Regions from separate parts of the Homo sapiens genome. Here region 1 is linked to region 2. Evidence: fine-mapped expression QTL. Tissue or cell type: whole blood. Region 2 holds a variant in brackets; the other region holds the start of a gene. All regions are shown on one strand. Distances are between the middles of the regions.

Region 1 (8,185 bases), 15 kb after region 2:
TAAGCGTTTATGTTTAAAACAGAAACATTTTAAGAAACAATGATTTAGGTTTCTACCCTGAGTAGAAGAATCAAGGAATAAATTAAATATAAAATGAATGGAAAAGAAGAAATAATAAAAATAGACACGGAAATAGAAATGATAGAGACACATTAATTCTATTAATTTCTATTTATAGACATTTCTATATATAATATAGAAATTATAAAGTGTAATAAAATGGAGAAACCTCTATCAAGATTGAAGAAGAAATAACAAAGAGAAAACTCAAATTACCAATATTAGGAATAAAAAGGGAAGGGCATGAGTCAGATCTGAAAGACATTAAAAGGGTAATGGGGAATTATAAACATCCTCTAAGAAAAAATATGCAGTTCCAGACGGTTTTTCAGGTGAATTCTATCAAATGTGTAAGAACAATATTTTACCTGTGTTACACAAACTCTTTCAGAAAGTGGAGAAAGGGGCAACTTTTCGTAACTCATTCTATAAGGCCAGTATTACTCTAATATCAAAACCTAACAAGAAGAGAAAATTACAGATTAATATCGCTCATAACATAGACACAAAAGTCTTTGGCAACACTTTAGGAAAACCAAATATAAAAAGATGATCTTTTGTGACTAAGTAAGTTTTTCCCCAGGAAGGCAAAGATTCATTTAACACCTAAAAATCAATCAATGTAATTCATCATATTAAGAGAATAAAAGAGAAATGTCCTATGGTGATCTCAATAGCTGTGGGTCTCACACCACTTACCAAAAACATTCTAAGTAAAGCAGGAATTCGAGAGAATTCATTTCTGTGATAAAGCATATCTACAAAAAATCTTCAGTTAATACCATACTGAATACTCTTAACCTATGATTAGGAACTGGGAAAGAATATCCATTGTCTCTTCTTGTATTTGATAGTTTCCTGGATGTTGCAGCAAATGTAGAAGATAAGAAAAATTAATAAAAGGCATAGAGATTAAAAGAGAAGAAAGAAAAGTGCCTTTAAGCACAGAAAACGTTTGTCTATGTAGAACATCTGAAAGAGGGCTGGGCACAGTGGTTCACACTTGTAATCACAGCACTTTGGCAGGCCGAGGTGGGCAGATCACCTGAGGTCAGGAGTTCAAGACCAGCCTGGCCAATATGGTGAAACCTGGTCTCTACTAAAAAAACAAAAATTAGCTGGGCATGGTGGCACATGCCTATAATCCCAGCTACTCAGGAGGCTGAGGCAAGAGAATCGCTTGAACCCAGGAGGCAGAGGATGCAGGGAGCTGAGATTGCACCACTGTACTCCAGCCTAGGGGGGATACAGCAAGACTAAAAAAAAAAAAACACTAAAGAATCTACAAAGAAACTACAAAATGTAAATAGAAAATGAGCAAGGTTTCAATACAAAAGTAAATATATCAAAAGCAGTTGTTTTGTCCATATACTACTATATGCCAATATATGTATATAGTACGTGAGTACACACACACACACACACACACACACACACACACACACACACACACCCCATCATCATCATCATTTTCAGGGGCTAGGGAAGTTGATATTGGTCAATTATCAATCTCACCCAGGGCCCTGACAGCTGGCCTATGGAATTATTGCAAGTGATATTGGTGCCCTTGGGGCATAAAGCTTTTAAGCTAGCATGGATCTTGTATCTACCTGATGTACATCTTATGTCCTCGTTCCTGGGAGAAGACAGCTCACAGACAGCTGAGTTTTTGGCTGCACATCCTACTTAGAAGAGAAATGCCTGATTGTGCCATGCTGACAAGTGTTGGTCCTGGCAAATACAGAAGGAAATAAAGAGAAATAAAAAGCATGTAGATTACAACAGAAGGAAAACTAGCTTTATTCACAGAAACATGATTCCTAGAAACATTATTGTGTATGTAGAAAATCCTATGGAATCTGCAAAGAAACTACCTGAAATCAAAAGCGATTTCAGTGAGGTTCAATATACAAACTCAATATGTATGCATATATACATTTATGTACATACACAGTCATGCACCTCATAACAAGGTTTTGGTCAACAATGAACTGCATATACGACAGTGTTCCCATAAGATAATATGACATTGTTACTGTTTCTTTTCTGTGTTTAGATATATTTAGATACACAAAGACTTAACGTTGTGTTACAATTGCCTCAAATTCAGTATATGCCGTACAGGTTTGTAGCTACAGGCTATACCATATGGCCTAGGAGTATAGTCAATTATACCATCTAGGTTTGTGTAGGTACAGTCTATGATGTTTGCACAATGACGAAAATCACCTAATGATGCATTTCTCAGAAGGTATTCCCATTGTTAAAGCGACACTGGACTGTATTATATGTATTACCTATATTCTACCAATGAACTATCAAAAATTAAAATTTAAAAGATTCCATTTACAATAGCATTTACAAACCCCATAGAATACTTAGAAATAAATTAGCAAAAGCTGTGGAAGATCTATGCACAGACAACTGCAAAACAGTTGCAAATTTTCTCTTAAAAAGCCAGATAGTATGAGGTTGGTACAAAAGTAATTGCGGTTTGAAAGTAATGGCAAAAACCACAATTACTTTTGCACCAGCCTAATAAGTAGCATAGCCTTTGTGGGTCACGTTGTCTGTGACACAGACTCTTTGTGTTTCTGTGTATTCTGCTGCAACTCTTTAAAATTGTTAATAGGATCCTTCACTCACTGGCCTTACATGTAGGCTACAGGCTAAATTTGTTGGCCCATAGGCTGCAGTGCTGACCCTTGCTGCGAAATATTTCTAGGAGAAAATACTCAAGACCTAAATCTATGGAGATATATATCATCCCTGTGGCCTGGAAAAGTTAATATTGGCAAGTTGTCCATCTTGGCCAGGACCCTGAAAGATAGTCTATGTTATTGTAAGAAAGATTGGTGTCCTTGGGGGCATGGGCTTTTAAGCCAGGGTGGAATCTGCAGAAGTCTGAGGTGCCATTTCCTGTCCCTATACCTGGGAGAAAATAGCTCTCAGACAGCTGTGTGGCTTTCTGCAAAGCTCAATTAGAAGAGAAATTATCAGGCGTGGTGGCGCATGCCTGCAGTCTCAGCTACTTGGGAAGCTGAGGTGGGAGGATCTCTTGAGCCCAGGAGTTCGAGGTTGCAGTGAGCTGTGACTCCAGCCTGTGTGACAGAGTGATACGCTGTCTGGAGAAATTCATCATGGAGATATGCTGATAATTGGTGGTCCCTGCCTACATCCTCCCAGGAGACTGAGCCAGACCCGGTGTGGCCAATGGTCCACTTATAAATTGAACCATGTTAGACCTCCTAACAGTGCAAGTACTCATTACAGCTCTGACATGGTGCTAAGCACCCCAAGTATTATAAACAAGTGTAATCCATTATGCACACACGGTGAGGCTACACCAAAGTCTGGTGGTTAAATGCATGATCTGTGGAATCAGACAGCATGGGTTCAAACCCTGGCTGGGGTGAGATGGGGAACTTTCTAAGGCTTAAATGCTGTTTTACCAAATATTTTAAAAGAAGTGAAAATACACTGCCTGTTAGAAAGGGAAGTTTTGGGGTGAAGCATGTGGGCAGTTTAGAATACCTGGTGTCCACCTCAGAAACCATCACAGCCCAGATGTTATAGGTTCAGGCCTTTCCAGGGCGGGCACATAGAATGTCCTCGCCTCCAAGGTTTGGAGAGCTGCGCTATAAAGGTTCTTGCAGGCGGTGTCCTGAGCCCAGAGCTGCCTGCAGGCGGGCAGGAGTTGTGGGGGTGTTGGCATGATCTGGTGTCCTCTGTGGCGGCTGCCTGAAAAGAAGAGGCCGAGGGTTCTTTGTCCTATGTCTCTCCGAATCTTAATACCTGCCCTGCAGCAGACTCCCTGGCTGCCAGGGCACACCGGTCACCCCGGTAGACGGTGCCGCCCCGCCCTCGCCAACCCCTTATCCCAACTCCCATTTCCAGCCTTCCAGGAAGCCCGATCCCCACCCCCGCACCATGTGAGCTGCTCCTCTACTCCGCGTAGGGGAGGCTCTGCCTCCGGTGACCCCGAGGGAAAGAGCTAGAGCACCCACAGGTGCTGACTGCTGCGGCGCTGAGGACGCTGCACACCCGTTCACCGGCTGACCCAGTGCTGCTGACAACCAGCGTCCGCGGCCCCCAACCGTCGAACAGAGCGCGTGGGACCATCTGGTGCCAAACGCCTGCAACGGAGTGCAGAAGGTCACGAGGCGCTAGAGACCGGTTGGGGGCAGGCGGTTGGGCCTTGACGCTCTTTGCTGGGCGTCGTTTTTTCTTCTCGCCCCCTTCGCTCCTGTGCGCTTAGTGCACAAGCCCTGGGCTCACACACCCTTTCTCTGTCACGTGTTCCAACAGCATCTCACCTGCATCGGGCTGAACAGGAGACCTCAATTTTCTCCTCTACTCCAAGGATTCGCCGGCTCACAATTGCTCTTCATATCTTCAGCAAGCTTTGTCTGTGCCCTGCCCCTCTGTCCCCCATTGCCTACCATACCCGCTCCCACCAAGCCTGCATCACCTCGCTGTCTCTGTGCCTCTCCCCGGCCCCCTTCCAGGCCTTTCTCCCACAATTTCTGGTCTTTGCTCCTGGGTGTTCCGTCGACCCTAAGAGGCGGTGTCTGATCTGGCAGGCTCAATGCCTTTCTCTGGCGCTGTCTGCACCTCCAATATATTCAGTGACTCAGGAAGGATCCATCCTGCAGGGCCCAGATAGACTCTCCTGTTTGCCACCTGAGCAGAAAGGCACCTCTGTGAGGTCTTTGCCACCCAGTCACCCTACCAGACCCAATCAGCACGTGGGAGACGTGGATGACAGGAGGACAGAGATGGAGAGGGACCAAAAGACTACATGGGGCCTTGAAGGATGTCATAAGAACGTTGCCTTTTACTGAGAGATGGGAACCATGGAGGGTTTCAAACTGCTGAGACTGGCATGATATGACTTAGGGCTTTTTTGTTTGTTTGTTTGTTTGTTTTTTCTTTTTTGTGACGGAGTCTCAGAGTCTTCCTCTGTCATCCAGGCTGGAGTGCAGTGGTGTGATCTTGGTTCACTAGAACCTCTGTCTCCCGGGTTCAAGACATTCTCCTGCCTCAGCCTCCCGAGTAGCTGGGATTACAGGCACCCACCACCACGCCCGGCTAATTTTTGTCTTTTTAGATGTTTTATCTCAGAGAAAGAGCTTCCATGTTCTCTAACTCTTGTAAACAGGTATTCTTCAAGAAACTTTACAATATAACATTCATACACAGAAGTGTACAAATCATCTGTCTATTCCTCAATACATTTTTGCAGAATGAACAAACCTATGTAATCTAGATCAAGAAGCAAAACACAGGCACCTCAGAATCAACCTCATGCTCATTCCTAGTCACTATGCCCCTCCCAAATTTTTAACATTATAGATTAGTTTTGCCTATTTAAAAACTTTATATAAATGGAACCCTACCATGTGTCCTGTTTGTGGCTGTGTCTTTTCATTCAACACTTCATAAAATTCATCCATGTTGTTGCTTTTAGCAGCACTTTATTCTTTTATATTGCTGTGTGATGTTCCATTGAACAAATATAATTTACCCATTCTATTATTGATGGATGTTTGGCTATTAGAAATAATAATGCTACTGTGGCTAGGTGTAGTGGCTCATGCCTGTAATCCTAGCAGTTTGGGAGACTGAGGAGGGAGGATTGCTTGAGACCAAGAGTTCAAGACCAACCTGGCCAACATAGTGAGACCCCCATCTCTCTTTAAAAAAAAAAAAGAAAGAAATAATGCTGCTGTGAACATTCATGTGTATGTTTTCGACTACTTCTGAGGTAGGACGCAGGACTCGACTCCAGAGCCGGGGCTTGGACACTGGAGCAAATTGAGGACTAGCTAAAACAGGGTCAGGGTGGAAGCAGCTTTCCATCAGACACACCCACCAGTGTGCTATGTCAGTTTACATTTGTCATGGCAACATGCAGGAATTACTGCTCCTTTCCATGGCAATGACCCAATGACCCAGAAGTTACTACCCTTTTCCTAGAAATTTCAGCATAAACCACCCCTTAATCTGCATGCAATTAAAAGTAGATGTAAATATGACTGCAGAACTGCCCTGAGCTGCTGCTCTCTGCGCCCTGCCGATAGAGTAACCGTGCTCTGCAGGAGCAGTCACAGAGCTGTAACACTGCCTCTTCAATAGAGCTGTCTTCTTCCACCACCAGCTCACCCTTGAATCCTTTGCTGGGTGAAGCAAAGAACCCTCCCAAGCTAAGCCCCAATTTGGGCTTGCCTGCCCAGCATCACTTCCAATATCATGGAAATTTTCAGTGATGCCTACTATGAGGTTTATTGCTTAACTTTTCACATTTAGCTCTGGAATTCTCCTGTCGATTTGCATGTCTTTTGTAGATTTATTTCATGTTTATTGATGCTACTATAAATCCTCTGAAGGGATTTACCTTTGGATGTAGAAGGCAGCTAGGATGGGAAAGCACACTTTATTCTGAGATTAATGTAAGTCAGAGCCATGCTTCACTCTTTTTGAAGGCTGGCTCTCTCCTGTTATCCTTATTTCTGGGATACTGGCTTTCAGACGTTTTACATGAAAACCTGAGTATTTTTTGGGGACCCTCTTCATTGGCAGGTCCTGACTCTGAATTTTTTTCTCAGCAGCCGCTGAAATTGCTGAATTTTACCTCCAAAACTTGATTTGAAAAAAACGAAGCAAAGGTAGAAAGAATATCATTCTAAAATCATTGTTTTATAAACAGATTTTGCTACGTAGATGCAATTGGCCATAATAATGGCAGAGAAGGCCAGATTTTCTTTCTAACTGTTATAACAGTTTTTAAACATGAAAAAGGTTCATTTAGAAAACAATGTTAAGGTAGGGGCACGGCAGAGAATGGGAAGATGGTCAGCCGGGAGGAGCAGTGCAAGAAGAGAGCAAAGACACAAGCACTCTTGTGTGCAGAAAAGGCATGGTGAACATAGGGGTAAAAATCACTAGCCCTTCTCGGAGCAATTCCAACATTATCTGAAGGAAAGTCCATGGACCATGAGAACCCCCCACCTTCTGAGACACATATATCTGGACTGTGGGACTTTGACCCATGTTGGATCAGCCAGATCCCCTCTCCCTGGAGCAGTTTGTCGGCACAGGAAGAGAACAGCTCAGCCCTTGGAGAGAGAGTCACTTATGGGTAGGATGCCCTGGCTTCCTATGGCTGGCAAGTGTGAAAGTTGATTATATAAATTGAGCCATTCTTGTTATACCCAACTAAAACAGAATTGGAAGGCCAGGAGGAGAAAACACACTCAGGGCACGCCAAGAATGTAATTCTTTGCAAGCCTAGCTGCTGAAATTGCCTGCTGTAACCCAAAAACGGTTTTATGTAGTAGCTTCTGAAACAACCTGCCGGACTCTATGATTACTTTTACCCACTGCTATCACTTACCAATCAGAACTTGCCAGCTCCCCAAAACTTTACTAGTGCCAATGAGTTGTCTTTGCAAAATAAATTGTCTTTGCTCTTTTAACGAAACCTCTTTCTATTTGTTCTTCTAAAAGGCTGCCCAGTTGTGTGCCCTGAATTGCAATTTTCACTTCCCAAATAAAACAGTTTATATTTATAGAGATTTATCTCTGTATTTTGATTTCGACCCAACGCCCTGATTTGCTCACTGCTGTGATCCAGTTGTACCTCCAGGTTCAGTCAATCCTCTCCAATTCTTCAAGGATTGTCCCAAGATAGGTTAGTTTTGGCTGTCCTAGCTTTTCATATAAATAGGGACATGCAGTATGCATTCCTGTGCAAGGATTCTTTTCACTTAGCAGAATGCTGTGCTTTTGTACTTTTGTTGTCTGTCATCAGGGGTTATTTTCTTTGATAGCTGAGTAATATGAATACTTCATAATTTCTTTTTCTATTCTCATGTGGATTGGTATCAGGGATATTTCCATATTATGCTTATTATGAATAAGGCTTTTATGAATTTTGCCTACTATGCAAGGCTTTTTGTGTCATGCAAGCCTTTTTGTGTACATATGTTTTCATTTCTCTCAAGGAAATAATTCAGAATGGAAGCACTGAGTAAGAATAAGTATATATTTAGTTTTATAGTAAGTTTTATGACATTCTTTCAATGTGATTGTACCATTTCATATTATCATTGCAATGAGAAAT
Region 2 (8,185 bases):
GCCCCATCCAGTGGCAAACATCTGCAACTAGCAGGTGGAAGTTCCAAAGGAACAGCCAGAAAGTCTCACTGGGGAAAGGCCCCTGGGTTTCCACCTTTGCCCTGTGGTGACTTTCCTTCACATCCTTTGCAGTGCACCCTCTGTCATGTAGCCCAGGGAGGCATCACAAATATCAGGATGAAGAGTGCATGGTTTGCCTTGGAAGATTAGGTAGCTAGGAAGCATCTCCAAACTGCATTCTACATCCTCAGTATCAGATAGGTATGCCCTGCTTTTCAAGGGCAATGCTTTTAGGAAGCTTCTCCCCCAGCCTCACTGAATGCCAGTCCCCTGACTATCACCCCACTGGTTCATCCAGACCACTGTGCTCCTCCCTCACTTCTACAGATACCTCAGTCTTCACTGACTAACTGATATGGTTTGGCTCTATGTCCCCACCCAAATCTCATTTTGAATTGTAATCTGAATTGTAATTCCCATGTGTGGAGGGAGGGACTTGGTGGGAGGTGACTGGATTGTAGGGGTGGTCTCCCCCATGCTGTTCTCATGATAGTGAGGGAATTCTCATGAGATCTGACGGTTTATAAGTGGCAGTTTCCTCTGCACTCTCTCCTGCCACCAAGTACGACATGCCTTGCTTCCCCTTTGCCTTCTGCCATGATTGTAAGTTTCCTGTGGCCTCCCAGCCATGTGGAACTGTGAGTTAATTAAACCTCTTTTGTTTATAAATTACCCAGCCCCACATAGTTCTTCATAGCAGTGTGAAAACAGATGAATATATCAACCCATCATTAACTGGCCAACCTTATCACTTCCACTGCCCAGTCAGCCCATCTGCAGACTTGACCTCCCAGCCTGCTTTGAACCTTTGAGATGACCGACATGGACACTACTATTCCCTGGGTCTCATCTCCTGGTCCCCCCAGGACCCAGGGTTAGCCTGGAAGACTCAAGCTCTGGGCTAGGTTTCCTCTGGTCTTGGAACTCCCATTTGACTGGCTCATTGCAGTGTGGAGTGGACAGCCCCCTGCAAAAGGCAGTCCCCACTAACCCACCTATGTTTATGGTAAACAGCCCTACCCCACTTTGAACCTTTCCTTTAGCCCAGAAGCCACCTCTCAGTCACATTTGGAGCTCCTAAAGGGCAGCAGCAAAGAGTCAGTCTTCTAGGATACCTGTCTGCACCATCATACTTATCACTACTTCAGCAATTGTCTGTTTTCTAGTAGCTAGGACCTTGACCAACTGGGCAGCCAAGTCTGCCTTTAACTCTGATGAAATCAATATGGTTACCATGTCCTCTTTCTAGCCTCCCCCTGGCAGGATCCCCCAATGTATTTGATAGCATTTACCCTTTGAGAAACGTAAAATCTCAATACAAGCTCTAAACTGAGCCTTTACTGCAGCCCAGACACCCAATGGGAGCATAATGCCATCAGATTTTGCGTACGTGTTACCTCCATATCCATCTTTGATATCTCTGCTAGCACCCACTCAGCCTTGGGTGGCACCTCGGGTCCTTTTCCCATTTGCACAGCCACTACTTCTAGCTCTGGAGCCATCACTGGATGCTCAGCATCAGGCACAGTTCACCTTTTGCTAACCCCTCTCTCGACCCATTTCCATTCATGGACTCTGGGGCTTCTTTGGATAATGACAGCTCTAGGACCAGTGTGTCTGCCCCAGACCCAGCTCCACATCTGAAGCACTCAGCTTTAGAACAGGGCCTAGAGGGGCATGCAGCACCTTAGTTTATGTTGGGGAGGCTTACACATGAGCACCGGGGTTCCTGCAAGCCTACAGCACCTCTGGTACAGTTGGAGAGGGCAGTACTACTGAAAGCAAAAACTCCTGGGAAACACTTTCCTCCCTGCCTACAGTCAGAGCAGCTGGGGCCTGTCCTGCCAAAGCACACCTCTTAGAACATCACTGAGAAGAAACATGTTCCAGAAGGCACCTCTGTTCCTTCTTGTGTTCATAACACCTGGAAACCATCTGGCCAAAGCACGTCTGTTGTGGTTGGAGGAGCCCGCACATACCAGTGCTTGGGACACTTCTGTCTTGCAGACAGACCACCTGGAATGCAGCTGGCCAGAGCACATCTGCATCCCTCAAAGGGAAGGAGAAAGCAGCACATCTATGCTTGGAGGCCTTTATGTTTCCACCACAAGCAGAGCACCCTGTTGCACCTTTCCAAGCACCTATGTTGCAGTAGCAGGGGACAACACACTACCTGTGACTGCAAGTCTTCTCTTCTTGTGTCTGGTCAGAGCGCTTGGGGCCCATATGGCCTGGGCAAACCTGTTACTGCTGGAGAAGCCTGCACAACAGAGAAGAAACATGTGCCCCAAGATACTTCTGTTCATGACTTCTGTCAAACGCCTTTGGACCACTCAGCTTGAGCACATCTGTTTCTGTTGGAGGGGCTGGTGCCATATCTGTGACTGAAGAAACTACTGTTTATGAATACAATCAGAGCATGTGAGGGCCATAAGTCCAGAGTATAGGCAGTGCAATGCCTGCAATGGGAGGAGATGGCACCATACCTGTAATGGGAGGAGATGGCACCATATATGGGTTTGTTTGGGGGGGACACTTCTGTTCATGAACACAGCCAGAACACCTGGGGTCCACAAGTCCTGAATTCAGGTGTACAATGGGAGGAAACAGCACCCCACCTGTGCCTGCAGAAACTTCTGTCCATGAATAGTCAGAGAGCCTGAGGTCCACAAGTCCAGATTAAAGATGGTGCAATGGCAGGACACAGTCCCACACCTATGCTTACTCGCGAATACAGCCAGAGTGCCTGGGTTCCACAAGTGAGGATTCAGATGGCAAGTAGAGGGTACAGTACCATTCAAGTGTTTGGGTACCCTTCTCACCATCATTCAGAGCAACTGGGACACTGGTGGCTGGAGCACACTTGTTGCAGTCAGATGGGAGAACATGTTGAAGAAGATACTTCCATTCTCACCTTCAATCAGAACACCAGGGGCCTAAGCCAGGGTACCTTCCCTCTTTCATTTTGGAGAAAACAACATCACTGAGAAAATATCTGTGCTTCAGGACCTTTTCCACCTGCTTTTGATCAGGTCAAATGTGCTTCTGTGGTGGGCACGGCAAGCACAGCCTCGTCTTTGGGGCACCCTCGGCACCTGCACAGGGATTCTTTGGGGACAGAAGCATGCAGCATCACCCTATTTGTTTTCTTCTCATGTAAGACTTAGGGTCCTCAGTGACCAAAAGCAAAAGCTTCCTCTAGAAATGGCAGGTGACCACTGTTCCCCATGATTTGATCTTGTTCTGCTGGGAGCAGTTTCTGCTCCTTCTAGTTACGGCAAACAAGCTTCACCTGCCCTTTGTCCTTCTAGCACAAACTGGAAGCCCAAGACCCTGGGGTGTTTGTGAATGTGTCCAAGGACTTGGGTTCAGATGAGCCAAGTCAGAAGTCGACACACTAGCCTAAGATGTTCACCTGTGGAGAGAAGAGAGAGATGGGTGAGTATCAGCCGTGCAACACTACACTCTAGTTTCAGTGTTATCCTGGAAGACCTAAGCTTTGGGGGGGTTTCCTCCTGTCTTGGAACTGTCAGGACACCCACTGCTATCTATGTCTGCCATGTTTCCTCTGCTCATGTGTTTTTGCTCTAACTCAATGATGGAGAAAATACTGACTTGTATAAGCCATGATTGTTGAGCCAGGCTTAACTGTGCAAAGTTTCTGTGGCCCAGGGCCCAGGATCTAGAACATGGAGTTTAAATGTCTTTTTTGCTTGTTTAATTTAGTTGTATGCCAGTAATTCACACACATTCACAATTTTTTTTTTGGCTGCAGGGGGTTGTGGGGGAGAGATGGGGATCTCATCATGTTGCCCAGCCTGGTCTCAAACTTGGCTCAAGTGGTCCTCCCGCCTTGGCCTCCCAAAGAGTTGGGATAACAGGTGTGAGCCACCACGTCCAGCAACATTCACACTTTCACCTATGGATGATTGGCTTGGCAATCAGGCTTTTGGGCCTGGAGGAAAAAAGGAAGAAAGAACTCACGCATGACTGCTCCGTAATTTAAAAAAAATTTAAGTCTGTTAGGATGTAATAGATTACATAGATATTGGTATCATGTTGCTTTGACACATTACAAATGATTATCTTTTAAGGTAAATAGCAGGATAGGTTCTATTTGGAAAAATAACTGGTCTATCTCGAGTCCTAACCACAAAAATATCGTCACAAGATTTATAATTTCACACAGACTTGGCTGACCTTGGAGTTGTACTGTGCTGAAAATACAATCTTTTTAAAGTATTTTACAACCCATGAAGGTATCTTAAGATGGTGGAAAGAAAAATAAAGTACAAGCATTTCCTTCAGCTGCTTACAGATTACAGTTGTCCCTTGAACAATGCGTGGGGGTAAGGGGTGCTGCTTCCCC[C/G]ACGCAGTCCAAAATGTCTGCATGACTTGTGACTTCCCCAAAACTTAACCACTAGTAGCCTACTGTTGACTGGAGGCCTCACTGATAACATGAACAGTTAACACATTCTGTATGTTATATGTATTATATACAGCATACTTACAATAAGCTAGAGAAAAGAAAATGGATGAGTGGATCATCATAAAGGTTTCATCCTTGTCATTTTCATGTTGAGTAGGCTGAGGAGGAGGAGGAGGATGAAAAGGAGGGGTTGGTCTTGCTGTCTCAGGAGAGGCCGCAGTGGAAGAAAATCCACATGTAAGTGGATCTGTGCAGTTCAGACCTGTGTTGTTCAAGAGTCAATGTATTATATTAAACAGTGCTAGGTCTTGGTGATATAGAATTCAAAGATTTATCTCTTGCAGCCCAGCAATTTACAGTATAGCAGAGAGAGACAGATAGATAAACCAAATATTACACCTGGAAAGATAGTGGTGGCGATACGGGAGTAGGTAAGAAGGACATAAAACTAGGTGTGAGAGAGATGGAAAAAATAAAAAATAATAAAAAAAAGAAGAAGGAAGAAGTGTCCAGGCAGAGAAAGGCTATTTGGGGGTCAAAGAAATAGCATGCTAAAAGTCAGGGAAGACTAATCTGTGTAACAAACCTGCACATGTATCCTGGAACTTTAAATTCAATTAAATTAAATTAAAAGTCAAGGAAGAAAGAGATCATGACCCTGTGGGACACCAGGCAAGTAATCAAATGTGGTTGGAGAGTGAAACCCAAGCTGGGAGATGTGGCTGCTGTGTTCAGCAAGTGCAGATCATGGACAAACAGACATACCATCAGGGGGCATTTGTCCATTATCCACAAAGTATGAGGAATCGTGAAAGGATAAGCAAAGAAGTTACATGATATATGTAGATTTTAGAAACACTCTATGCCTCCCTGAAAGGAAGAATTAAATAGATGCCAGAATAGAAGCAGATAGGCTTAGGAAATTTTTTTGCAGTGATCCAATGCAAAAATGAGCCACTGAGCTCCCAGTCTAGAGGAACTGACAGTGGGATGGTTGAAGAGGTAAGGGAAGAGGCAAGGGGAAGTAGGCGATGCCAACAAGACCAGGGCTATTTTAGCCATCTGGTTTAGATAAACGGACATGAGTTGTTTTGGAAAACATACATTAAGTTAACTTTCTAATAGTCTGACATGGCTATGGAAGACGTAGGTGATATTCATAAAGCCATTCATTTACCCATTTAGTCATCAGTTGGGCATATATATTATTATTTGAGACAAAATGAGTAGTCTAAGGAATACTTTAGGTAATAGCATCAATTTTTTAAAAACAAGGATAAAAATCTTATGAAACCTAATTCTAGTTGGAGAAAATAAAATAAACAACAAATGTAATAAATTAGTAAATTATTTGATAGGTTCCAGTAACAACTGCAGGGAGACGAAGGGCAGCCAACGTAGGATTGAGTTTAGGGCTAGAGAGAAGTGTGAGTTTCTATTTAAATAGACTGGAAATGGTAAACCTCATTGGGAAGGTGGAATCTGAGCAAAGTCTAGAAGGCAACAATTAAGCAAACCACACAGTTATCTGAGGGAAAGGCATTCCAATTAGTTGGACTAGCCACTGTAAAGGCTCAGAGGAAGGATGTCTCTTGCCCGCAGGGAGCAGTGAGCAACTCAATAGGGGACCAGGATGAAGTTGGCACTTTGCAGAGTGGGAAGAAGGGGGAATAGAGATGGAGAGGGATGAAGAGACTAAGTGGGGCCTTGGAGGATGTGATAAGAACATTGCCTTTTACTCACAGATGGAAATCATGGAGGGTTTGGAGCAAAGGATGACGTGATCTGACTGAGGCTTAATAGGATCATTCTGGTTTCTGGGGATGAGAGACCATTTAGGTGGCTATGGTCATAATCATGAAAGCTTGGACACAGTGGTGGTGGTGCAGGTGATGAGAAGTAAAATTTGTAGATATTTTGAAGCATTTTCTGTTGGCCTGAATGGCAGGAGTATGTGTGGAAAAGGAAGAAGGAATCCATAGACTTGCTATTTGAGTTTAGAAAAGGTTTTGGCCTCATCAAGGTATACTCGGTCACTGGGCGTGTGAAAAAAGATGGCCGAGGGAGAATTCCTAGAAGGGGAAAATAGGGAGGGAGGACATGGGAGGATAACAGACTCCTAAATACATGTGGTTGAGTTCATTGGTTGTGCATATGGAAATTACCCCTACCTCAAACCATCACACAAATGATGAATTTAAGATATCAGATAACAAAAAACATGAAAAAAACTAAATCCAGGTACATCATAATCAAACTGCTTAGTCTCTAGGAGAAAATCAAAAGACATCCCAAGAAAAAGCACACATTATGTGTTCCAGTAGAACACATGCATTGTTCTAATGAGAAACAAAGAAAAAGTAAGATGTAGCTACAGACGAATGAACAAAACTTGAATATATTATTTTCAAAAGTTCCCCCGAAACAGAATATGGCACACCTCTCATTGGAAATACACAAGCTAGAACTCAATGAGTTAGCATTTTTTAAAACTCGAAAGAAAAAAATACTGTGAACCTATACCCTGTGAACCTGCCAGAATGTGGAGACACAGGTGCTAAAACTACACCCAGTGAAACTCTTTTAAAAGTGAAGGTACACACACACACACACACAACTCAACCTTTTTATACACGTAAATGCTTATCGCTAGCATACCTTTCATTAAAAAAAAAAAACTAAAGGAAGTCCGGGCAAGATAAAAATAGTGCAAGTTAGAAATCTGGATCTACACAAGCGAATGAGTAGCAATGGAAAAAGTAAATATAAAAATATATGCATATACATACATATGTGTTTGTATGGGGGTGTTTGTGTGTGCATGTCAAACACTTTCTGTAAAAGTAAAATGTATGGCACAATGGCACAAATGATAAGAGAGAAATGGAAGTGTACTGTTCTTATTGTATAGTTCTTATACTATATGTGAAACAATATAATATTACTTGGAGGTAGACTATATATGTTACTCTATATAGTTTATACTATAGTATGTAGTATATCCTATATAATATAAAGAATCACTTTAAAAACACTTAAGAATTATATTTAGTAGGTAAACAAAAGAGATAAAATGGAATCATGAAAATAATCCAAAAGAAGGTATACAAAGAGGAAAAAGAAACAAAGACCAGATGGAACAAACAGGAAGCAACAGCAAAATTGTCAGTGTAAACACAACGACATCTAACCATATTAAATTTAATTGTCTAAATGTATGATTTTAAAGGCAGAGATTGTTAGATTGGATTAAAAATACAAAACTATATGCTATGTATAAAAAAAACACTTGAGGCTGGGAGCAGTGGCTCATGCCTGTAATCCCAGCACTTTGGGAGGCCGAGGCGGGCGGATCATGAGGCCAGGAGATAGAGACCATCCTGGCTAACACGGTGAAACCCCGTCTCTACTAAAAATACAAAAAGTTAGCTGGGCATGGTGGTGGGTGACTGTAGTCCCAGCTACTTGGGAGGCTGAGGCAGCAGAATGGCGTGAACCTGGGAGGCGGAGCTTGCATGAGCCGAGATCGCACCACTGCTCTCCAACCTGGGCGACAGAGCAAGACTCCGTCTCAAAACAAAAGCAAAAACAAAACAAAACAAAACAAAACAAACAAACAAAAAAGACTTGAAACACAAAAACGAATATAACTGAAAGGATAAGGATGGAATAACACCAATGTAAAGAAATCTGGAA

What was found. PIP is the estimated chance that this variant, and not a neighbour inherited with it, causes the effect.
Region 1: LINC01801 starts here. The variant in region 2 is fine-mapped to the expression of LINC01801 in whole blood (TOPMed, PIP above 0.99).

The regions. Positions count from the first base shown.
Region 1 is chr19:34,828,736-34,836,920 of GRCh38, forward strand. LINC01801 (long intergenic non-protein coding RNA 1801) reads right to left here and starts at 4,134. Exons shown (of 6, transcript NR_033982.1): 1 at 3,990-4,134; 2 at 3,595-3,801; 3 at 1,671-1,791; 4 at 429-518.
Region 2 is chr19:34,814,016-34,822,200 of GRCh38, forward strand. LINC01801 (long intergenic non-protein coding RNA 1801) reads right to left here. Exons shown (of 6, transcript NR_033982.1): 5 at 4,572-4,751; 6 at 2,139-3,475. Among named protein-coding and RNA genes, the nearest start is that of LINC01801, 15 kb to the right of the region's middle. The variant C/G (reference allele first, on the strand shown) is at 4,430.